Regions from separate parts of the Homo sapiens genome. Here all the other regions are linked to region 2. Evidence: fine-mapped expression QTL. A gene starts in region 2. Each other region holds a variant in brackets. All regions are shown on one strand. Distances are from middle to middle. Region 1 overlaps HDAC8 (histone deacetylase 8). Region 2 holds the start of PIN4 (peptidylprolyl cis/trans isomerase, NIMA-interacting 4). Region 3 has its middle 10 kb from the start of ERCC6L.

What was found.
Region 1: its variant is fine-mapped to the expression of PIN4 in whole blood (TOPMed, PIP above 0.99).
Region 3: its variant is fine-mapped to the expression of PIN4 in lung (TOPMed, PIP 0.97).

What each region holds. Positions count from the first base shown.
Region 1 is chrX:72,326,051-72,334,232 of GRCh38, reverse strand. HDAC8 (histone deacetylase 8) reads left to right here. Exons shown (of 11, transcript NM_018486.3): 11 at 4,157-4,717. The coding sequence ends at 4,179. Among named protein-coding and RNA genes, the nearest start is that of CITED1, 24 kb to the right of the region's middle. The variant A/G (reference allele first, on the strand shown) is at 4,115.
Region 2 is chrX:72,176,817-72,184,998 of GRCh38, reverse strand. It overlaps PIN4 (peptidylprolyl cis/trans isomerase, NIMA-interacting 4), which reads right to left and starts at 3,242. Exons shown (of 4, transcript NM_006223.4): 1 at 3,171-3,242. The coding sequence starts at 3,213. RefSeq lists an enhancer at 2,983-3,202.
Region 3 is chrX:72,245,029-72,253,210 of GRCh38, reverse strand. It overlaps a transcript of PIN4 not described here. Among named protein-coding and RNA genes, the nearest start is that of ERCC6L, 10 kb to the right of the region's middle. The variant C/T (reference allele first, on the strand shown) is at 4,424.

The DNA.
Region 1 (8,182 bases), 150 kb before region 2:
CCGCTGTGGTCTGAACTTCTTGTCTCCCTAGGCCCCAGCCTGTGCTAGCCTTTAGAATTTTCTCAGGCTGCCACCCACTGCTGGAAAAGCTAGATGTGAGGGGAAAACAATGGGCATTATTTAAGCTTGCATTTTTATTGTTACCCCAATTCAACATTGCTCATCATCAACTTCTTGGTGAAAATTATTTCTGTTGTTTTTCTTAATTGCCTCCAAATTTAACTGGAGAGTGAGGCAGAGCAGCAGAGGAGTACAGCACCCACCTTTCCTCCCTGCGAACATGTCTTGTTGGAATGCTTTGACATGGAATTTTGTTCATCCTTGCATTCAGTCATTCCCCTAGCTCTGGCTATACTTACAGATGGAAGGACTCTCACTTCACACCAGTGTCCCCTGTAGGTTGTCCTCAGCTGAGGCAACAACACAAGCGAAGGTGTGGAAACAGGAAAGCATGGATGGGGCCCATTTACGCTAAGGAGTTGGACTTCATTCATAGGTGGTAGGTCGGGAACTGCTAAAGTCTTTTTTTTTTTTTTTTTTTTGAAATGGTGTCTCGCTCTGTCACCCAGGCTGGAGTGCAATGGCACCATCTCGGCTCACTACAACCTCCACCTCCCAGGTTCAAGCGATTCTCCTGCCTCAGCCTCCCCAGTAGCTGGGGTTACAGGCGCCCACCACCACACCTGGCTAATTTTTTTGTATTTTTAGTAGAGACGAGGTTTCACCATGTTGGTCAGGCTGGTCTCAAACTCCTGACCTCAGGTGATGCATCCACCTCAGCCTCCCAGAGCGCTGGGATTACAGGCATGAGCCACCACGCCCAGCCTGCTGAAGTCTTTTTGAGCAGAGAAGGAATGTGATCACAGCTAGCAATTGTGCAGGGAATAGCTCTAGAAGCAGGAGGACCAGATAAGAGGTTGTCGCAGTGACCTGAGTAACAAGAGATGTGACTAAAGCAGAGACAGTGGAACAGAAAGAAGGGGATAGATTGGAGAGACATCTTGAGGTTAGGCTTCACAACTCATAAGATGTGGAGAAGGCGTGAACTAAGAAATTAAGGATCAAAGATTATCCAGAGATTTTTTTGAGGTTAGGGGGTTGAAATACCAAAAGCATGATCCAAAAAAAGAAAAAAAATTGATAAGGAATTGGAGCTCATCAAAATCAACTTTTGCTTTACAAAAGACCCTGTTAAGGGAATGAAAAGATAAGTTACATACTGAGATAAGATATTTGCAAATCATATATCCCACAACAGATTTGTATCTAAAATATATAAAGGGCTGGGTGCAGTGGCTCACACCTGTAATCCCAGCACTTTGGGAGGCTGAGGCGGGTGGATTATTTGAGGTCAGGAGTTTGAGACCAGCTTGGCCAACATGGTGAGATCCCCTCTCTACTAAAAATACAAAAATTAGTCGAGCATGGTGGCACATGCCTGTAATCCCAGCTACTAGGGAGGCTGAGGTAGGAGAATCGCTTGAACCCAGGAGGCGGAGTTTGCAGTGAGCCGAGATCGCACCACTGCACTCCAGCCTGGGTGACAGAGTGAGACTGTGTCTCAAAAAATAAAAATAAAAAATATATATAAAGAACTTTCCAAACTCAACAGAAAAAAAAAAAAACAATTAGGAAGTAGGCAAAAGACAAGACATGAAAAGGATATACAGTCAGCAAATGAGCACATGAAAAGATGTTCAACATCATTAGCCATTGGGAAAATGCAAATTGAGATCACAATGTGATATCACTATACATCTATCAGAATGGCCAAAATAAAAACCAACACCAGATGCCAGCAAGAATGCTGAGAAACCAGATGACTCAAACATTGCTGGAGGGAAAGTAAAATGGTACCACCAGTCTGGAAAACAGTTTGGCAATTTCTTATAAAGCTAAACATGCTACTACCATACCTCCCAGCAATTATTCTGTTGAGCATTTGTCCCAGAAAAATGAAAACTATGTTCACACAAAAACCTGTATGTGAATGTTCATAGTGGCTTGATTCTATAGCCAAAAACTGGAAATGACTCAGGTGTCCTTCAGCAGATAAGTAGTTAAACAGATTGTGCTACATCCATACTGTGGAGTACTACTCAGCAAAAAGAAGCAACAAACTTGATACACACCACAACTTGGATGGATCTTAAGAGCAGTATGCTGAGTGAAAAAAGCCTATCTATCTCAAAAGTTTATATACTGTATGGTTCCATTTCTATAACATTCTCAAAATGACCAAATTTTAGAGAAGGATAACAGATGAATGGTTGTTGGGACTTAGGGATGGTGAAGGAGGAGGGATGGGAATGACTGTAAAGGAGGTAGAGGAGGGAAATCTTTGTGGTGATAAAATAGTTTCGCATCTTGATTGTGGTTGAGGTTACATGAATCTACACTTGCGATTAAATGGCCTAGAATTATACACTTATACACACACAAATGAGTGCTTGTAAAACTAGTGACATATTAATAAGATCTGTGAATTGTACCAATGTCAATTTCCTGACTTGGATATTGAACAGTAATTATGTAAGATGTTAACATGTGGGGAAACCTGGGGAAGGGTGTGTAGAACCTCTCTGCACTATTTTTTTTTTGCAGCTTCCTGTTATTCTATAATTATTTTAAAAGTAAGAGCTCAGTACAAAAAAGGAATGAACTTCTATTGATACATGCACAAATCTGCATGAACCTCAAAGGCATTATGCTGAGTAAAAAAATAAAATAGCCTATCTTAAAAGGTTACAGACTGTTTGATTGCATTTATATGGCATTCTCAAAAAGACAACACTACAGTGATGGAGAACAGATCAGTGCTTGCTAGGTGTGGGGGAGAAAGGAAGATGTGATTGCAAAAGGATAGCACAAGGAGATTTGAGGGGTTATGGAACTCCTCTCTGTCATGAATCTATACATATGTTTAAAATCAGATCTGCACATGCACAAATGTCAATTTTACTGCAGAATAAAATTTAAAATAAAAGTAGATAGGCAAGGCCGGGCATACCTGTAATCCCAGCACTTTGGGAGGCCGAGTCGGGTGGATCACGAGATCAAGAGATCGAGACCATCCTGGCCAGCATGGTGAAACCCCATCTCTACTAAAAATACAAAAATTAGCTGGGCATGGTGGCACACACCTGTAGTCATAGTTACTCGGGAGGCTGAGGCAGGAGAATTGCTTGAACCCGGGAGATTGCAGTGAGCCGAGACCGCGCCATTGTACGACAGCCTGGGCAACAAGAGCAAAACTCCATCTCAAAAAAAAAAAAAAAAAAAAAAAGATAGGCAAGTAGTTTGTTTCTGACTTGTTTCTTCTTTCCTTCCTTCCTTTCATTCGTCCATTCATTCAGCCATTTACTGAGCACCTACTATGAGTGAGGCACTGTGCAAGACTTTGGAAATCAACCAAAAGTAAGACAGCCAGGCCCTGCCCTCAGGGAGCATTGTTTCTGTTTCAGAGAAGTGGCCAGTAGGGTTTGGAGCCCAGTGTTTCTACTTGGGGAAGTGTGGCAAGGCAAAGACTACGGAGGGACAAAGTGAGCAACTTTTCATTCCTAGAGCCCAGTCCGGTAGGATTTCAAATGATCACTTTTCCCTCAAAGACTCTTAGGCCTGAGATCAGAGGAAAGCCCCCAATCCGTGTTTCACAGGTACTCACAAGAGAAAATGCTAGGAGGGTTGTGCCTTGCTAAGGGAAGGAAGAAAAGTTGGGGGTGGGGAGCATGAGATTTGATGCAGTTAGTAAAGAATGAACTCTGAAAAGTGTTACGAGAGAGAGAGAGAGACTTAAAACAACCATTTGTTTAGCTCATGACTCTATAGATTGGCAATTGAGCTGAGTTCAGCTGGGTGGCTCTTCTGGTTCTGGCTGGATACACCCAGCATCTGCAGTCAGCTGGCTGTCAAAGGCCTCGATCACATGTCCAGTAATTGGCTGGTGGTTGCCTGGGTGACAGGGATCTCTGGGCCATTTGTTTCTCATCATCCAGCAAGCTATTCTGGTCTTGTTCCTTATGGCGAGGTCACAGAGTTCCCAAGAGCAGCAGAGAATAAGCCCCAAAATATAAGTGCTTTTTAAAAAATAGCTCTATTGGGGTATAATTCACAT[A/G]CATTACCTGACTTTGAATTTTGTTTTCTCCCCTGTTTGCAGGGAATCTGAAGCATGTGGTCTAGTTGACAGAAAGAGATCAGGTTTCCAGAGCTGAGGAGTGGTGCCTATAATGAAGACAGCGTGTTTATGCAAGCAGTTTGTGGAATTTGTGACTGCAGGGAAAATTTGAAAGAAATTACTTCCTGAAAATTTCCAAGGGGCATCAAGTGGCAGCTGGCTTCCTGGGGTGAAGAGGCAGGCACCCCAGAGTCCTCAACTGGACCTAGGGGAAGAAGGAGATATCCCACATTTAAAGTTCTTATTTAAAAAAACACACACACACAAATGAAATTTTTAATCTTTGAAAATTATTTTTAAGCGAATTGGGGAGGGGAGTATTTTAATCATCTTAAATGAAACAGATCAGAAGCTGGATGAGAGCAGTCACCAGTTTGTAGGGCAGGAGGCAGCTGACAGGCAGGGTTTGGGCCTCAGGACCATCCAGGTGGAGCCCTGGGAGAGAGGGTACTGATCAGCAGACTGGGAGGTGGGGAGAAGTCCGCTGGTGTTGTTTTAGTGTTATATATCTTTGGTTTTTTTAATAAAATCTTTGAAAACCTACCTCTTTGTCCCGTTGTCTTCATTGTAAAGCGCCACTGACAGCACACACAGTTCTGAACTTTTCTTCTCGCTGAAGTGTCAAGAATAACCCTGTTCCTTCCAATCTCTACTCTGGCCCGGCTTGAGAGTCTGACCTCACTGGGGAACTAGTGTGTCCCTAGCCCAAGTTCTTGGGACAGAAGGCCAAGCTCTGTGTTGCACTGGGGCTGTCCATGGTGGGGTAGGAATACTGGCACTGCAGTCATGGAGAGGGGCTTATTGGCACCCTGGGGAGGAGCTGTCCCTGTCCAGGGAGTGATTTAGGGATGGAAAAGGTGTGTTGGCATGTCAGATCCAAGAGGAGCACTTCCATGGATAGAAAGGATGCTTCCCAGTAGACAATTGGCACATAATGAAAAGGGGAGGAAGTTGTAATGTGTGGTGTTACTGCAACCTCTGGGGAGTTGGCAACATGGAAAAATGGGGATGGGAGATAATGGGAGAGATGAGGAAGAGACAACTAAATGTCATGATATTGTAATTTTATTTACCAAATATTTACAAAGCTCCTTCAACTAACTACTGGGACCGGGACGGCAGACAAGCACACAGCCCCATCCATCCTGGCTGTCTAGGAATTCCCAGACAAGGCAAGGGAGGAGAAAAAGAAGCAGATCCCAACATGTTTCCAGCTCTGTTATCAACATGAGCTCAGAGCTGTGGGAGCACATTTCTACTTTTCAGTATTTTCCAAATTTTCTGTAGTGGGCACATTTTACTTTAATAATAGAAAAAAATAAATACATAAACCCCAAAAAAAAAAAAGAAACAATTGATCCGCGGGGAGTTAGGGGGTAGTTACAGATCAAAGTCAGTTCAAGACACCCACTGAGGAAGACTTTGTGCTCAGGCCCTGGGGCTGTTCTAATTGCCTGGAAGACCGATCAGTGGGGGCGATGGCGGGGAGGGGGATGCGGGGGAGGGGGATGCTTTTTAGATCAGTTGGCTTGAGGGTGGGGCAAATTTGTCCCCACCATAAGCCTGCCTGTCTTACCTTTAGGAAATTGCTGCCGACCCCGCCACCACCCACCCCTTGTGTCTGCAAGGGACCAGCCACAATAACTATAACAACAATGGTAAAGCAAGCATTGGCATATGCCCCATTTTACAGATCATTTTCACTTGTACGTCACTATCCACCCTGCTAGTGGGTATTATCATCCCCACTCTATAGATTAGAAAATTGAGGCTAAGAATGATGAAGTAACATGCCCCTTTTTAAGTGGCAGAGCCAGGAAGAAAAACCCGGCTGGAACTGCAAATTCCCTTACTTTTTCCACTGTCCCACACTAGTGCCACTAGAATATTTTTAAACTGTGACTTTGAAGTAAACAACTTTCTTACTGCTTCCAAAGCCCAAGCTGGACCAAGCCACATGCTGCTTCTGGGCCCTCACCACACAGTAGCATTCATTCGTTTGTGTGCTTTTCAGCAAGTTGCTTGACCTTTCTGGGTCTGTTTCCATACCCATAAAATGGGGTGAATAATTCTTGCACCTCATGGGCTATTGTGAGTGGTTGATGAATTACCAAAGATGGAAGCACTTTGAAAAGCGTGTATTCTGGACAGGAGGGCCTGCCTTGGAAATGGTCCAGGGAAGGCTCACCTCTGAGGAAAACCCAGTGCTTATAGGAAACCCACCAGCCCCCTCTGTCTCCAGGGCACTCACAAGGGCCAAAGAGACCAAGAAAGAAGTGTAGACTATGTCTCCAACTCAAGGGGTAAGAAAATAACCACTTAAAAAGGAATATCGATATTGGATATGCATATATGTGCATAAAACACCTTTGGGAAAATACACAAGGAACTGGGACACCTCAGTTGCCTCTGGGCAAGGGAACCAGATGGCAAGTGGCAGAGTGAGGGCGACCTGCACTCAGTTCCTTTTTGTACCTTTTGATTTTTGAACCATGTGAATGTATTACCTGGTCCCAAAAAAGTTAATACATAACATTTGTTTTTAAGTCAATGGAAAATTCCCACCAGTTTTCCTTTGGGGAGGGTGGATCTGCCTCTGCTGCATTCAATGTTAGCTGTCACAGAGACAGCAGTAGTATATTTCCAATTATATATTTAAAAGACTCTAAGGCAGAAAGACTTCTTTATAAGAAAATCAAATATTGTCATTCAACAAAAAAAAAAGGAAAAAGAGGAAGAGGAGAAGGAAAAGAAGGAGGAAGAGAAAAGCAGAAGAATGAAAGAAAACAACCACGTAAACAAGTGTGTTTTGACATCTCTAAGCCCCTATACAGAAAGCTCCTGCAGCTCCTCCTTCTCTGCATTTGCCAGGGGCAGATCCCCAAACCTCCTGCTCAGTGCTGGGCCCAAAGCTGACCGGTAGTGCCTTGGCATGCAACATAACACACTTCAGCCTCAGACTGCCTGAGTTTAAGCCTCTCCCTTCACTTACTAGCTGTGTGACCTTGGCCAAGTAACTCCCTCTCTCTGAGCCTTAGTCTTATTGTCTATCAAATGGCGACACTTACCTGTACCTACCTCATGGGGGTGGTTGCGAGGGACCAAAGAGATAATGCAGAAAAGCATGTAGTAGAGCGCATGTTATATATTAGTAGTAGACACTGTTCTTGCCCTAAATGTGAACACGCTGTGGGTAAGGAAACTTCCTGGGGTTCCCTGGCTTCAGGAATTAGGGAAATAGTATGCAAATTTGTGTGACTGTACATATGTACATTTTTCTGGGGCACAGAGCCATAGCTATTATCAGAGTCTCAACACTCAAAGGAGTTTTGTGATTACAAAAAGGATGAGATCTACAGACGTAGAGGTAAAGACAGACATAAATAGAGCTGTCTAAGACAGGGGCCCCTCACCTCATGATCTATGCACACGCTAGTCCTGCTTGGAATGCCCCAATCTTCCCTAGACTGGCTCCTTCTCCTCATTCAGTTGTCTGACTCAATTAAATACCCTAGGGCCGGGCCCGGAGGCTCACATCAGTAATCCCAACACTTTGAGAAGCCGAGGTGGGAGGATTGCTTGAGCCCAGGAGTTCCATACCAGCCTGGCCAACATGGCAAAACCCCATCTCTACTAAAAATACAAAAATGAGCTAGGCGTGGTGGCACATGCCTGTAGTACCAACTACTCAGGAGGCTGAGGCAGGAGGATGCCTTGAGCCCTGGAGGTCGAGGCAGCAGTGAGCCATGATTGCACCACTGCACTCCAGCCTGGGCAACAGAGCAAGACCCTGTCTCAAATAATAATAATAATATGGCTGGGTGTGGCGGCTCATGCCTGTAATCCCAACACTTTGGGAGGCAGAGGTTGGCCATTCACCTGAGGTCAGGACTTCGAGACCAACCTGGCCAACATGGCAAAACCCCGTCTTTACTAAAAATACAAAAAAATTAGCCAGACTTGGTGGCGCATGCTTGTAATCCCAGCTACTCAGGAAACTGAGGCAGG
Region 2 (8,182 bases):
CTAATTTTTTTTGTATTTTTAGTAGAGACAGGGTTTCACCCTGTTAGCCAGGATGGTCTCGATCTCCTGACCTCGTGATCTGCGAGCCTCGGCCTCCCAAAGTGCTGGGATTACAGGCGTGAGCCACCGCGCCTGGCCGCCATTGAAAAGTTTTAAGCAAGAGTCTCCATCTTGCTTGTCTTAGTATCTCCAAGCCTAGCACAATGCCTGGCACACAAAAGGTGTTTTAATAAATGTTTGATTAAACTGAAAACCCCAAATACTGACTACCAAAACCCTAAAAAAATGTTACTGCCAAAGGAGTGTTATTAAATCAAACTCCTAACTGGGTTTGCTATAGATCCATTCTTGAATGATGATGCCTTCCAGTTATCCCATCCTCTTCCCTGCTGGATGCTGTCATCTTCTGACTGCCACCTCACTGCCTTTGATTTCCTGACGACTCTGGCATCAGCTTTGGGCTTCCTCTCCACCCTCACTCCTGCCATTACCTTGAGTGACCTCACCATCTATCTTGGGGAATCTCAGTTCTAGGTCTCTTTCCCGAATGTCATGCTCTCTACTCCAAGCTACCTGCCCCGGGGGCACACGATGGAACTGTGCCACTCAGAACTAGTTCAGTCTCTGGCTATAACCTCCTGTTCTTCCAGCTTCCTCATGTCTCATTCCCACAATACTTGCTCTTTAACTTCACAGAACCTCTCCCTTGACCCCAGTCCCTTCGTCCTGCTACATTCACCTAGGCCACCAGACTTCTTTTTCCCTTCCCACTCTGGACCCCATGTTCCTTCATCTGAACTGCATTCCCACTGGCCCTTGTAATTCCCTGGTGTTGCTATCCTCCTATCATAACTGCCTAACAAAACCTCAACCATGGCTTAAGGCTGCACCTAGCTCTTTTCAATCCTATATTGTGCCAATTGCATAGTACTAGGTAAATCAGACTGTGAAGATTATGTAGTCTACAAATTCATGGCCTTTGATCTTAGTCAGGCTCCTAGCCCTGAAGGCACTTCTTTTGTGTTTCATTCCCTCTTCCATTACGATATTCCAGACCTTTACCACTCTCCTCAAGATGCCTACTGAGTCCCTGCCCCTCCATCTCCTTTCCTATGACCTCAAGCATAAGGTGTCCCTGCTCCCCCTAGGTCCTGGATTCCATTTTCTCCTAAATCTCACTCTTCTGTACCTTTACCTCTTTTACTTTACTGGATCCTTCAGCTTCACTCCCAAGTTTTCCCCATTCCAAAGAAGCAAAGAAAATAAAACTTTCTCTTAATCCTCTGTCCTTCTCTATCTACCATCCCATTTCCATGCTTTTCAATTAAAACTTTCCAAGAAGTCCAAATTACCACTTCCCAGTCAGTTCTCTAGTCACGGTAATCTGGCTTCTGTTTCACTGAAACCACTTTTACCCAAGGCCACCTCTAATTTCCAAATCTGCTGTTCTTGATAGACTATACCCTCTCTCTTTAAAACATTCTGGTCTCTCCAGCCTCTGGCCACCATTCTGCACTCCCTCTATCTGTCTGCCTCTTTCTCTGCCTGTCCTAGGATCACATCCTCTGCTCTCTGCTCTTTTCATTCTATAAACTCTCCATGGATAATTGCATACACTCTAATGGGCTCAACTACCATCTATAAGTTAGCGACTCCTAAAACTTACATGTACAGTCTAGACCTCTCCCTCAAACTTTAGACTCAAATATCCAACCACTTCCTGACTACATCTCCACTGAGATGTCCCACAGACACCTCAAAGCCAATCTATCTGAAAGTGAATTCATCAATCTCATCCCCGCTCCTCATGTATCCTTGATGTTACCCTGCAGGACCAGCAACAGGTTAGAAATCCAATCCAGAAAACAGAATGATCGTTGATCCTCCCTCACCACCCCTCCCCAACCCAATAAATCACCAAGTCTTGACTATTTCACATCCTAATATTTACAGAATCTTTTCTCTTTTCTCAGTTCCCACAGCCACTCCCTTAGGTCAGTCCACCATCATCTCTCACCAAGACTACCACAACAATCTCCTTACAGGTCTTTCTGATCCTTAACTGTCCTTCTTAGCAGAATATATAGCACTCTCCATGATCTCGTCTTTGTTTCTGTTTTCATTCTCACCACTTGCCATTCTGCCTTGAGTTTTTGCTCCAGCAACACTACGCTGCACACATCATGCTGTTTCTCACCTCAGTGCTTTTGCTGCTGGACCCCAAGTAAGGAATGCTTTAACCTACCCTCAATGCACATCTTGACCTGCCTAATTCATCTCCAGGAAGTCTTCCGTTCCCTGTTCCCCAGCTAAATGAAGGACTTCCCTCAATTTCTATTATATCCCATACACATCCCTCAACACTACATTTAGTACAGTGCTTTATGATCACTAAGCCTTTATCTTCCTCACTACTTCGGGAGCTCCTTAAGGCCAAAATCTCTTTTTTTTTTTTGAGACAGAGGCTCGCTCTGTCGCCCAGGCTGGAGTGCAGTGGCGCGATCTCGGTTCATTGCAACCTCTGCCTCCCGAGTTCAAGCGATTCTCCTGCCTCAGCCTCCCGAGTAGCTGGGATTACGGGCGCGCACCACCACCACGCCTGGCGAATTTTTGTATTTTTAGTAGAGACGGGGTTTCGCCATGTTGGCCAAGCTGGTCTCGAACTCCTGACCTCGTGATCCATCCTCCCTCGGCCTCCCAAAGTGCTGGGATTATAGGCGTGAGCCACCGCGCCCAGCCTTCTGTCTTATTTGTGTATCCTCAGCGCTTAGCACTCTGCCTGACACATTTCTGTTCAATGGATGAATGATTCCTTCCCCGATGGTGGGCATGTCATTCTGTAAGCATTAAAGTGAACTTTAAGGACCATAACCAATGTGTACTTCCTATTGCTGGCTTTTGATAAGACCCAATTTTAGAGCTCTAATAACCCCTTGAAATAGCAGCCCTAAGTCATCGCCTCCGAGGAACTATCCCCATCAGATTCCATTACCCACTAGGACGGTCCCTGAACCGTAGCCCAATGTATTCCTACAGATGTAATCGATGGCAGCACTGTGGGGCCACTGGCTACCTGCTGCGTCCGTCCCGGACTCCGGAGATGGACTGTCTGTTCCCTCCCTTCGCTCCTCACCCGCCCCCATTCTCCTTGATCGCTCTGGCCGCTCTACCTTTCCCCGCTTTTCCAGAACCACTTTTTCCTTTGGGCGGCATCTTGGAAGCTTGTTGTTGAACGCTGAACCGCTCCAGTTGCCGTACAAGCCCCTTTAGAAGCCCCGCCATGGGCATGTCCTAAACAAATGCCTGAAAGCCGCATCTCAATTGACCGTTCTTATTGCGGCTCCGGAAGCAGGCACAGCTTGGGGCAGACCCCGTCCTTTGGCTCTTGGACCAATGGGGCTGAAGATGTCTGACCAATAAGACGCTTGGGCCGAAACAAAGGCAGAGGGGCGGAGACAAAGGCCGGATTAGGGCGGGAAGCCTGGCCTCTGCGCTTTTTGTGACTTCTTTCACGCACCCTAATTTGCACCAGATCCCCCACTCCCCACACTCTACGCCCGAAGCTCCCCCGTTCCCCTCAACCTGGCTTTTTTCACGCGTGCGCAGTAGGAGCCACGGGGGTGGGTGGCTCTGCAGTCCCTCGGCGCCAGCTCTGGCCAATCCCGCGGGGCCGCCAGACAAAGGGAAGCAGGAGTACTGTGGTGGCGGCCAACTTCCGCTGTCTCCTCCTACACACAGGGCTGCCCTCCCTGGCAGTTTTTCGTTTGTTAATTTTATTCTGCAGTTGTAGCTAATTAGGTTCAAAAGGTAGTTTTTAAAAAAGCCTGTCACCTTTTTGCGTCTTGCAGAGCTCAGTCATGGAGAAACATTGGAAGCAGTCTGAGTGCTCCTCAGTCGGGTACTGCTTAAATAATGTTTTAGCCACACAAGAAGATATTATACAACATTCAAAATAACGATTGTAAGGCTGTGTGTACAGATAGGGGAAATGTTTTTAAGACCAAGATAAAGAATATGATTCCTTGTAAAAGAAGTATATGTAATGTATTGTATGTTATATGAATATAAAGGAGAGGAAAGCTATAGAGCAAGATGTGGCCAGTGGTGCTAGTGCATACAGGTCATCGTGTTTGTTTCTGTGTATTTTCCAAAATTTCCATAATGGTGCAGCATAGTGTAGTAAAAGCATGGATTCTGGAGCCAGATTGCCCAGTTTCAAATCCCTGCTCCACATCTGTCTACTAGCTCCATGACCTTGAGGAAGTTACTTCACCTCTCTTTGGCTCAGTTTCATCATCTGTGAAATGGAGTTGATGATAATAGTACCTACTATTATCCTATCAGGTGTTAAGAGAATTAAACAAGTTCATATCTGTAAAGCACATAAAATGATGGCTTGCTCATATTAATAATGTTTGCCTAAGATAAATGATTTTTGAATTTGTGCCCACACACTTTTTCTCCCCTTACAATCCCTCCCACCATCAATAATTTGTATATGATATGTCAGGGCGTTTCCTCCAGTCCATGAGAGAGCTGTCCTAGCTTGCCACTACCAGCCAGAATATAGAGGTCTTCCAGCTCAGAGTTTAGTTTTTGGATGCAGCCTTGCTGGACCTGGAGATGCTTCATGCTCATACCAGGGAATCAGGTGTTTCTGAGACTGTGCTCATTCCCTACTCAAGACATAACATGGAGCCCTCTTATGTTTGGCTGCTTTAAATTCTGGACACATTTTGGGCACTCCTTGTTTTCGGATTGGGAGTGATCAACTGCGGAGGACACATCTAGTGGTGAGGGGATCATTGCTCTGCCACTTCTGAAGTGGATCCCGCACCTGTACTAATTCTCCAAGTTCGGCTGCGAGATGGAGGGGCGGGGGAGTTGGGATTGGGTGTTGACGATGACAGCGTAGCCTTGTGTTCATCAGGTTATCTATGGCCAAGAGGCCCAAGAGGAACATTTACTTTTGATTTTTCTTTCTTTTTTTTTTTTTTTTATTTTTTATTTTTTATTTTTTTTTTTTATTGATCATTCTTGGGTGTTTCTCGCAGAGGGGGATTTGGCAGGGTCATAGGACAATAGTGGAGGGAAGGTCAGCAGATAAACAAGTGAACAAAGGTCTCTGGTTTTCCTAGGCAGAGGACCCTGCGGCCTTCCGCAGTGTTTGTGTCCCTGGGTACTTAAGATTAGGGAGTGGTGATGACTCTTAACGAGCATGCTGCCTTCAAGCATCTGTTTAACAAAGCACATCTTGCACCGCCCTTAATCCATTTAACCCTGAGTGGACACAGCACATGTTTCAGAGAGCACAGGGTTGGGGATAAGGTCACAGATCAACAGGATCCCAAGGCAGAAGAATTTTTCTTAGTACAGAACAAAATGAAAAGTCTCCCATGTCTACTTCTATCCACACAGACCCGGCAACCATCTGATTTCTCAATTTTTTCCCCACCCTTCCCGCCTTTCTATTCCACAAAACCGCCATTGTCATCATGGCCCATCCCCAATGAGCCGCTGGGCACATCTCCCATACGGGGTCGTGGCCGGGCAGAGGGGCTCCTCACTTCCCAGTAGGGGCGGCCGGGCAGAAGCGCCCCTCACCTCCCGGATGGGGCGGCTGGCCGGGCGGGGGGCTGACCCCCCCACCATCCTCCCGGACGGGGCGGCTGGCCAGGCAGAGGGGCTCCTCACTTCCCAGTAGGGGCGGCCGGGCAGAGGCGCCCCTCACCTCCCGGACGGGGCGGCCGGCCGGGCGGGGGGCTGACCCCCCCACCTCCCTCCCGGACAGGGCGGCTGGCCGACCCCCCCCCCGCCTCCCTCCCGGACGGGGCGGCTGGCCGGGCAGAGGGGCTCCTCACTTCCCAGTAGGGGCGGCTGGGCAGAGGCGCCCCTCACCTCCCGGACGGGGCGGCTGGCCAGGCGGGGGGCTGATCCCCCCACCTCCCTCCCGGACGGGGCGGCTGGCCGGGCGGGGGGCTGACCCCCCCCACCTCCCTCCCGGACGGGGCGGCTGGCCAGGTGGGGGGCTGACCCCCCACCTCCCTCCCGGATGGGGCGGCTGGCCAGGCGGGGGGCTGACCCCCCCACCTCCCTCCCGGACGGGGCGGCTGGCCGGGCGGGGGGCTGATCCCCCCACCTCCCTCCCGGACTGGGCGGCTGGCCGGGCGGGGGGCTGACCCCCCCCACCTCCCTCCCGGACGGGGTGGCTGCCGGGCGGAGACGCTCCTCACTTCCCAGACGGGGTGGCTGCCAGACGGAGGGGCTCCTCACTTCTCAGACGGGGCGGTTGCCAGGCAGAGGGTTTCCTCACTTCTCAGACGGGGCGGCCGGGCAGAGACGCTCTTCACCTCCCAGACAGGGTTGCGGCCAGCAGAGGCGCTCCTCACATCCCAGACAGGGCGGCGGGGCAGAGGTGCTCCCCACATCTCAGACGATGGGCGGCCGGGCAGAGACGCTCCTCACTTCCTAGATGGGATGGCGGCGGGGAAGAGGCGCTCCTCGCTTCCTAGATGGGATGGCGGCCGGGCAGAGACGCTCCTCACTTTCCAGACTGGGCAGCCAGGCAGAGAGGCTCCTCATATCCCAGACGATGGGTGGCCAAGCAGAGACGCTCCTCACTTCCCAGACGGGGTGGCGGCTGGGCAGAGGCTGCAATCTCGGCACTTTGGGGGGCCAAGGCAGGCGGCTGGGAGGTGGAGGCTGTAGCGAGCCGAGATCACGCCACTGCACTCCAGCCTGGGCACCACTGAGCACTGAGTGAACGAGACTCCGTCCGCAATCCCGGCACCCCGGGAGGCCGAGGCTGGCGGATCACTCGCGGCTAGGAGCTGGAGACCAGCCCGGCCAACACAGCAAAACCCCGTCTCCACCAAAAAAAAAACGAAAACCAGTCAGGCGTGGCGGCGTGCGCCTGCAATCGCAGGCACTCAGCAGGCTGAGGCAGGAGAATCAGGCAGGGAGGCTGCAGTGAGCCGAGATGGCAGCAGCACCGTCCAGCCTTGGCTCGGCATCAGAGGGAGACCCTACTTTTGATTTTTCGTTGGGAAGAGCCTTTCCTGTGACCACTGGCTATGGCAGTTGTGAAGTAGGAATGAAGCAAACTAGAGTTCCGATCCCAATGAACAGCCAATGTCTGTCAATGGCTGATGTGCCTAGCAAATGCTTAGTGCCTGGAACACTGTGAGAGCTCTGTGCATTCCAGCAGATAATAACAGCAACAATGATAATAAGCCTGTGTCCATGGCTGCATTTTTCAAGCAAGACTGAAGGCCAACAGCTCCAAGGGGAAAAGAATGGGCATAGGCCTGCTGGAGGTTTCAAGGTCAGGAGCACTTTAAGACAGATCTCAACTATGCAGTATGATTACAAAAAGATGGGGCAGGTATTAGGATACAATTTTAAGTATTCTGAAATGTGAGTTTAACTTTCATTTTCTTCAGTTTATATTATATTCTATCACTTGACACTTATTTTTTATTCAAGAGAAAAAGACAATAAACGTAATTTGAAAAGCAAATCATAGAAAAGCCAGCTTCTATTCAGGGTTAAGTCTGCACCAGTCTATGGAGGCAGACTGTGGAGGGGTCTGTGGAGCAGAGTGACAAATTAACTGAAGAGAGAGGTCAGGGGGAGAAAAGAGGAGAAAAATTCAGCCTTGAAACTATGGTAACATCTGCTGGAGTGTGCACTGCGACTCAGCCAGCAATGGCTGCCAGTTGTATTTTCTACTAATTACCTCATCAGGTTCATTCTTTTATGCGTTACTTGAGGAAAATCAGGAAGAGAAGCTGGCAGCCCTCTTCCCAGGACAGAGGTTCACAGACCTTGGCCCAGACTCACACACTGCCCCACCTGACCTGCTCCACAGCCAAAGAACCACAGTTTCTTTCCTATTTGGGATCCCAGCAGAGCTTATTCTGCAGGGGAAAGCTTGAAGCAACAAAACACAGAGATCTAGTTGATCCCATTCATAGATGGTCATTGCATAGGCAGCTCTAGGCCCCAGACTCTGGGAACAAGGACAGGAAAAGGTCATGTTTGGAAAATGAAGACAGGAAAAAAATCAGTACATAGTGGATGAAATCAGCCACCTATAAAAATAACTACTCTTCGTGGCAAATGGACATAGGTATTAATATTAAATATATTGCTGATATGACTGATGTGTCTCCGTGAGTCC
Region 3 (8,182 bases), 68 kb before region 2:
GGATGTATTTTGGAGACAGCCAACAGGGCTTGGTGATGAACTGGATGAGGGAAAGAGATGATGTTTCTAATTTCAAGGTTTTTGGTTTGAGCAACTGAGTGGTGCCGTTTGTAGAGCTGGGGAAAACCAGGGCAGGTCAAGTTTGAGGGTGGGTTGGGAACCAATAATTCTCTTTTGGACGTTTTCAGAGTGAAATGTCAGATGTCGAGGGGGACTTGATATAGGAGTCTGGGACTCCAGTGAGAGGTTTGGACCTAAGAAAGACATTTGGGTGTCCTTAATATTCAGTTAAGAGCCCTTGGATTCTTGGTGACTTGCTCAAAGCTAACACAACTATAACAGAAACATGGTAAGATACCTGCTGTTATGAACCATGCGTTGTGTCCCTGCTAAAGGCGTATGTTGAAATTCTAACCCAAAACGGGATGGTATTAGGAGGTGGGGCCTTTGATAGGTGATTAGGTCATGAAGGTGAAGCCCTCATGAATAGGATTAATGTCTTATAAGAAAAGACCTGGAGGGACCGGGCGCGGTGGCTCACGCCTGTAATCCCAGCACTTTGGGAGGCCAAGGCGGGCAGATCACTTGAGGCCAGGAGTTCGAGACCAGCCTGGCCAACATGGTGAAACCCTGTCTCTACTAAAAATACAAAAATTAACTGAGTGTGGTGGCGCGTGCCTGTAATCCCAGTTACTTGGGAGGCTGAGGCTGAGGCAGGAGAATTGCTTCAACCCAGGAGGCAGGGGTTGCAGTGAGCTGAGATTGCACAACTGCACTTCAGCCTGGGTGACAGAGCGAGACTCTGTCTCAAAAAAAAAAGAAAAGAAAAGACCTGGAGGCCAGGCACTAAGTGGCTCATGCCTATGAGAGGATCATTTGAGGCCAGGAGTTCAAGACCAGCCTGAGCAAGATGGCAAGAACCCACCTCTACGAAAAAATAAAAAATAAAAATAGCTAGGCTTGGAGACCAGGAGGTTGAGGCTACAGTGAACCGTGATTGTGCCACTGTATTCCAGCCTGGGTGACAGAGCAAGACCCTGTCTCTCAAAAAAAAATTTTTTTTATTAAAAAGAAAAGACTCCAAGAGCTTGTTTCCTTTTTCTCTCTGTTCTCCCTCAAGTGAGAGTACAACAAGAAGGTGAATGTCTGCAAACCAGGAAGAGGGCCTCACCAGACACTGAATTTGCCTGCACCTTGATCCTGGATTTCCCAGCCTCCAGAACTGAGAAATAAATGTTCGTTTGTTTTTTTTATTTTATTTTTAATTTTTTGGTTTTTTTTAGAGACAGGGTCTCACACTGTCACCCAGGCTGGAGTACATTGGTGCAATCATAGCTCATTGCAGCCCCGAACTCCCGGACTCAAGTGAGTCCACTTCAGCCTCCCACTTCAGCCTCCCAAAGTGCTGAGATTACAGGCATGAGCTTCCTGCACCCAGCCATGTTTGTTGTTTAAACCACTCAGTCTATGGTATTCTGTTATAGCAGCCAGAACTAAAACAGCTGCCTTCTTCCCTACCTCGAAAAAAACACCCCTCTCCTCCACTTGAACGTCTTTATCTGAGTCAGTTAAGACTTACTCTCAGGGAAAATGCAAAATAAAACTACAAGGTACCACTTTTTAATAATCAGAGGGGTGAAGATCAAAAGGTTGGAAAACACTGTTAGCAAAGGTGGGGAAAACACACACTTTCATATATTGTTTATGGGAATGTAAATTCATTTATCCCTTATGTAGGGCAATTTGGCAGTTTCTAGCAAAATAAGAAAGACATATACACTTTGACCCAACAATTCCAATTTTAGGAAATTATTCTACAGATACACTCACACATATTTTTTTTTTTTTGAGACAGAGTCTCGCTGTGTCGCCCAGGCTGGAGTGCAGTGGCACAATCTTGGCTCACTGCAAGCTCCACCTCCCGAGTTCAGGCCATTCTCCTGCCTCAGCCTCCCGAGTAGCTGGGACTACAGGCGCCCGCCACCACGCCCGGGTAATTTTTTTTTTTTGTATTTTTAGTAGAGACGGGGTTTCACTGTGTTAGCCAGGATGGTCTCGATCTCCTGACCTTGTGATCCGCCCGCCTCTGCCTCCCAAAGTGCTGGGATTACAGGCGTGAGCCACCGCACCCGGCCCACTCACACATATTTTTTAAAAAAATGCATGTACCAGGCCGGGCGTGGTGGCTCATGCCTGTAATCCCAGCACTTTGGGAGATGGAGGTGGGAGGATCACCTGTGGTCAGGAGTTCAAGACCAGCCTGGCAACATGACAAAACCCCCATATCTACTAAAAATACAAAAATTAGCCAGGCGTGGTGGTGGGCACCTGTAATTCCAGCTACTTGGGAGGCTGAGGCAGGAGAATTGCTTGAACCCTGGAGGTGGAGGTTGCAGTGAGCCGAGATTGCGGCACTGCACTCCAGCCTGGGTGACAGAGTGAGACTCCCTCTCAAAAAAAAAAAAAAAAAAAAACCATATACCAGAATATTTATTGTCACTATGTTTTTATTTATTTTTATTTTTCGTAGAGACGGGTCTCATTATGTTGCCCAGTGTGGTCTCAAACTCTAGAGCTCAAGCAATCCTCCCACCTCTGCCTCCCAAAGTGCTAGGATTACAGGTGTGAGCTACCATGCCTAGCTCTCACTATGTTTTTAACAGCAAAAGATTGGGAAAAATATCCTTCAATAGAGGACTGATTAAATAAAGTACACCTTTACAATGGAATATGTGCAGCCATCAAATCTAAGGAAGTTCTTGGTCATTTTTTTGTTTTTTGAGATAGGGTCTCACTGTGTTGCCCAGGCTGGTCTTGAACTCCTGGGATCAAGTGATTCTCTCACCTTAGCCACCTGAGTAGCTGGGACTATAGGCACGTACCACCATGCCCGGCTGATTTTTTTTTTAACTTGAAAAATTGAGATGAAATTTACATAACATAAAATTGACCATTTTAACTATTTTAAAGTGTAAAATTCAGTGCCTTTATGTTTTGATATGAAACAACCTTTGAGATATATTGGTATGCACTTACCCTCACTCGCCTTCTATCCCCACTTGCCTACCTCTGCTTGTGATAGTGGGAGAGACTTTTTCTGATGGGCATCTCTGAAAAGTCTCCAGAACACAGGAGGCTGAGAGGGACTGTTGCCAGGGAAAGGTGGTGGTAATGTTATCAGCGGTTCTCACCCCCGGCTGCACATTAGCATCACCTGAGGAGATTTTGAAAATGCCCTTGCCCAGGCCCCACCTTTAGATACTTTGATTTAATTAGGGGTGAGGCCTGGGCATGAGTCTTAAAATTTAGGCATAATTTACCCACAGTAAAATGCATAGGCCTTAAATGTATAGTTCAGTGAATTGTGATATTGTGGGTGCTTGTGTAACCACTGCCCCATTAAAACATAGAACATTTCCATTTCTCCAGTCACTGCCCTTCACCCCTGCCAGAGGCAGACACTGTTCTGATTTCTATCATAGATTCATTTTGATTGTTCTTGAACTTCATAGAAATGGAATCAAGCAGTATGTAACATTCTGAGATTGCCTTATTTCTCTTAGTATAATGCCCTTGAGGTTCATCCTACTGCCCTGAGGATCAGTAGTTCATTTCTTTTTGTGGCTGAGTGGTATTCCCTTGTATGGATACACCAAAGTTTATCCATTCAGGCATCCAGGGACATTTGCATTGGTCCCAGTTTTTGGCTATTAGAAACAAAGCTGCTATCAACATTCTTGTACAAGTCTCTCTGTGAGCACATATACTCATTTCTCTTGGAGTGGAATTCCTGGGTTTAACTTTATTTGAAACTGCTGGTTTCCAAAGTGGTTGTACCAATTTACACCCCCACCAGCAAAAGATGAGACTTACAGTTGTTCCATATCTTTGCTAACACTTGGTATTGTCTGTCTTTTAAATTATAGCCATTCTCATGGGTATGTAGAGGCATGTCCTTTTAGTTTTAAATTGCATTTCCCTAATGGAAAATTATGTTGATCATCTTTTCATGTGCTTACTGACCATTCATATATCCTGTCTCATGAGGTGTCTGTTCCACTCTTTTGCTCATATTTTTGGGTGGTCATTTTATTATTGATTTGTAGGAGCTCTTTATATATTCTGGGTATCAGTCTTTTGTCAGATAAATATATCGCAAACATAATTATTATTTAAGATATCCCCAGTGAGTCTCACATGAATGCAGACTTGAGAACCCCTGGTGAACTAAAGATTGGCCCCAAAGGCCCCCTACTTTTGCAAGTCCTCAAACTTACCCCCTAGCAATTTTGCCTGAGGATTGGTTTTTTTTTTTCTTTTTCTTTTCTTTTTTTGAGATGGAGTCTTGCTCTGTCACCCAGGCTGGAGTGCAGTGGCGCAATCTCAGTTCACTGCAACCTCTGCCTCCTGGGTTCAAGAGATT[C/T]TCCTGACTCAGCCTCTGGAGTAGCTGGAATCACAGGTGTGCACCACCACGCCTGGCTAATTTTTGTATTTTTAGTAGAGACAGGGTTTCACTATGTTGGCCTGGCTGGTCTTGAACTCCTGACCTCAGGTGATCCACCGCCTTGGCCTCCCAAAGTGATGGGATTACAGGCATGAGCCACTGCACCTGGCTGAGGATTGGTTTTTCAATTCATGTGAATGTTCATGGCTGTGGGGGATTTTAGGAGAGAGGGTTTCCTTGTCAGTCTTTCTCCTGCATATCTGCCTGGCTTCTTGGACAGCTCCATTCATCTGAACTGTTCTCTTACACTCTGACTGTGAGAAAGTCTTTTCCTGTCTTCACCCTAAGATTTTCCACATGTAAAACCTGACCTTAGTGCCTGACCCATTTCTACAACCCAGAGACAGTGTGTGTCAAAGGAATAAGGACATTTTTTTTTTTTTTTTTTTTTTTTTTTTTTTTTTTTTTTTTTTTTCTGGATGGAGCAAGCTATGTCCTAGGCGCAAAAGGAGTGTGACTTTCTGTATCCCCTCCTGGCTATTATCCTCAGGCTGCCTATCTGCTCACTGAAGGGAAGAATCATTTTCTAGCAGCCTTGGCAACCAATCACCAGAGGACACTCATTGAACCTGCTGTGTACTTGCTGCATGACCTCGTGCAAGGCAATTAACCTCTCTAATCCTTGGTTCCTTCAACTGGTACAAGAGAACATCTTGTTTGTTGTGGGGAAAGTTCCTGGCATAAATTAGCTGCTCACAAAGGATGGAAGACATGGTTCTAAGATCAGTGGAACTGGGCTGTGAGAAGAGCTCTCTGTTCTGGGACTTGCCATACCCTCAATGTGCCCTAGTGCCATATACCTGCCCCTTCCTTCCACACCTTCAGAGGCCCAGACTGGTCAAGGCCCCTCCTGCTGTGTTGTCTTCACCCTGCCTTTTTTGGCTAATTTGAACAGAACATCCCATGAGGGCCCCTAGGCTCTTTAAGCTCTGAGCAGATGGCTGGGAAGCCAGTTCTCTGAAACAAACAGTTCTTGACTTGGATCTGGGCAAGGGGCCAAGACCTTTGAAGGGCTGTAGAAAAACTTCACCTTTGCCCCCACTTCCCTCCTGTTGCCCTCAAGAGCTTGTAGTTTTTACTACCTGTCTCTTTTAGTGCCAAAGAGGAAGGGAAAAAGGCCACGCCTATTTGGATTAGATGCCCACTTGGAGTCCCTTCTTGGGCTGGCACCAGGGAGAAGCCTTGACCCCAGGTTTTGTGAGAGGCACCCATGCTATGTAGGGAGGGTTTCTCTGCTGCTGCAGAAGGAGGATAAGGAAGCTACAGGAGAGCTCATGGGGAGCTCCCAGAAATGTCCTTGACTTGGGGAACAAGTGGGTACAGGGCATCTGGAGAGTCCAGCGACACTGGGCTCTGGCTGGAGCCTGTTCATCTCACAGCCAAGCATGGGTGGCTTTGTCCTAGCACAAGATCTGGGAAGGGACTAGAAGAGGGCTGTCTAGTTCCTGGGTGTAACTCAGAATCCTCTGTGTTACTTCCAGGTCCATCTGGAGGCAGGTATAAAAGGGAGACAGGGGTAGTATTGGCAAGAGAAGTGGCTGGGATGGGTATGCTTGGCCCTCCCCACTTCCCTGATTTCTGGTCCTCATTATGTCTTTGGATATATCATTCCCACCCAAGGCCTCATTCTAGTTCTCTAACAGAGCACACAGTGCTCTCCTTTAGGATTACTAATTGACAGATCATCCATCCATCCATCCATCCATCCAACAACTATTTACTGGTCAGCCATTATGTGTAGGGACCATTCTGAGCTCTGCGAGGGTATAACTGTGAAAAAGACAGAAATGTTCTTCACAGAGCTCACATGATCACGGGGGAGCCAGACAGGTAACCAGGCAGCTACATTCCATGGAATAAACCCAATGATAAAGGCAGGATGTGGGATCACAGAGGATGACTTGTTGAGAAGGATCAGGGAAGGTTCCTGGAAGCAGGGAGACCTGCACTGAGACAAGAGGAGTGAATAGACAATAGTGAGGTGAAAAGGGTGAGTCCAGGCAGAGGAAACTGCATGTGGGGAGGCCTGGAGGCAAGATCTGAATAGCTGGAAGTTGTTCAGTTTGAGAAGAGATCGTGTGCATGTATGTGTAGGGGTTGTGAAGAAGTAAGACGTGGCCAGAGAGGTAGTCAGAGGCCAGATCAGGAAGGCCTTGTAAGCCATGGTAAGGAGGCAGGACTTGATCTTGAGGGAAACGAGGGGGCTTTGAAGGATTTAGACAGGGCCATGGCATGATCAGTTTGGTATTTTTGAAAGATGATTCTGGTTTTTGGGTAGAGATCAGATAGTGGGGGAAAGGCACAAATAGAAGCAGGAAGACAAGCCAGGAGGCTAGTGCAGTCGTCCAAGTGAGACAGAATGGTGGCATAGACTACCGTGGTGGCAGTGGAGATGGAGAGAAGTGATTGGATTTGGGATGTATTTTAGAGGTAGAGCCAACACGACTCACTGATGAATTGAACTTGAGGGGCAAATATGAGGCAGGCCTCAAAGACACTTCCCGGTTTCTGACTTGGACCACTTTGGGGGTTGGTAGTGCCATTCATGGAGATGGGAAATATTGAGAGAGCAGGTCTAGGGGAGAGAGGGTGAGTTCGGTGCCATGTTGAGTTTGAGCTTCCGGGGTGACATGTCCTATAGCCATTTTGCCATCTAGGTCCAAATCTCAGGAGAGACGATGAGGCTAGAGACAGAATTGTGAGGCCTTGAGAGCCACTGAGGTAACCCAAAGGGAGTGGAGGATGCCATGTTTTGTGCAGTGGGACTGCCTTGTCAAAGGTTTCTCTATCCTTTGGTGCCCACTTCACCCAAACCCCGAAAGGCAGGTTTAGAAGGCTTTCATCAAAGACTGTGAAACTTAGGGCAAAGACCCTGCAGGTAATCCTAACTCTTGGCTCCCTCCCTTCCTCCCAGTCCCTGTCATTTCCACAGCATCCTGGGCTGACTTGATTAGTTTCCAAGAAGGGTTTATCCATCCCAGGGGCCAGGCCAGCTGCCATTCTTAGGAAATTCAGTTTCTGGCTCCCTCTGCTGGCAGAGCTGGAGATGACTGTTGGCTGGGGCAGCCTCCATCCCATGGCTTTCCTCCTCCTTCCTGCTTCCCCTGGGAGATTAAACCCTCAGTCTCAATCTTCTATCCCCTACCCCCAAATCCCACCTACTTTATAAGAACCCTAGCTAGAAATGGGGTGGGAGAAGCCTAATTAGGTATCTGGGAAACACAAATTCTTACTGTTGGCAGAGCTTGGTGGCTCACACCTGTAATCCTAGCACTTTGAGAGGCTGAGGCGGGAGGATCGCTTGAGCCCAGGAGCTGGAGAACAGCCTGGGCAACATAGCAAGACTCTGTCTCTACAAAGTATTAAAAAAATTAGGTGGATGTGGTGGCACATGTCTGTAGTCCTAGCTGCTAAAGAGGCTGAGGTTGGAGAATCGCTGGAGCCTGGAGGATCACTTGAGCTCAGGAGTCTGAGGTTACAGTGAGCCGAGATCACACCACTGCACTCCAGCCTGGGCAACAGAGTGAGACCCTGTCTCATAAATACATTATTACTGTTTCTAATCAATTTCATCTTTTTTCCTGCCCCAAACCCACTCTCGGCTCCTTTTTTTTTTTTTTTTTTTTTTTTTTTTTTTGACAGGATCTCACTCTGTCACTCGGGCTGGAGTACAGTGGT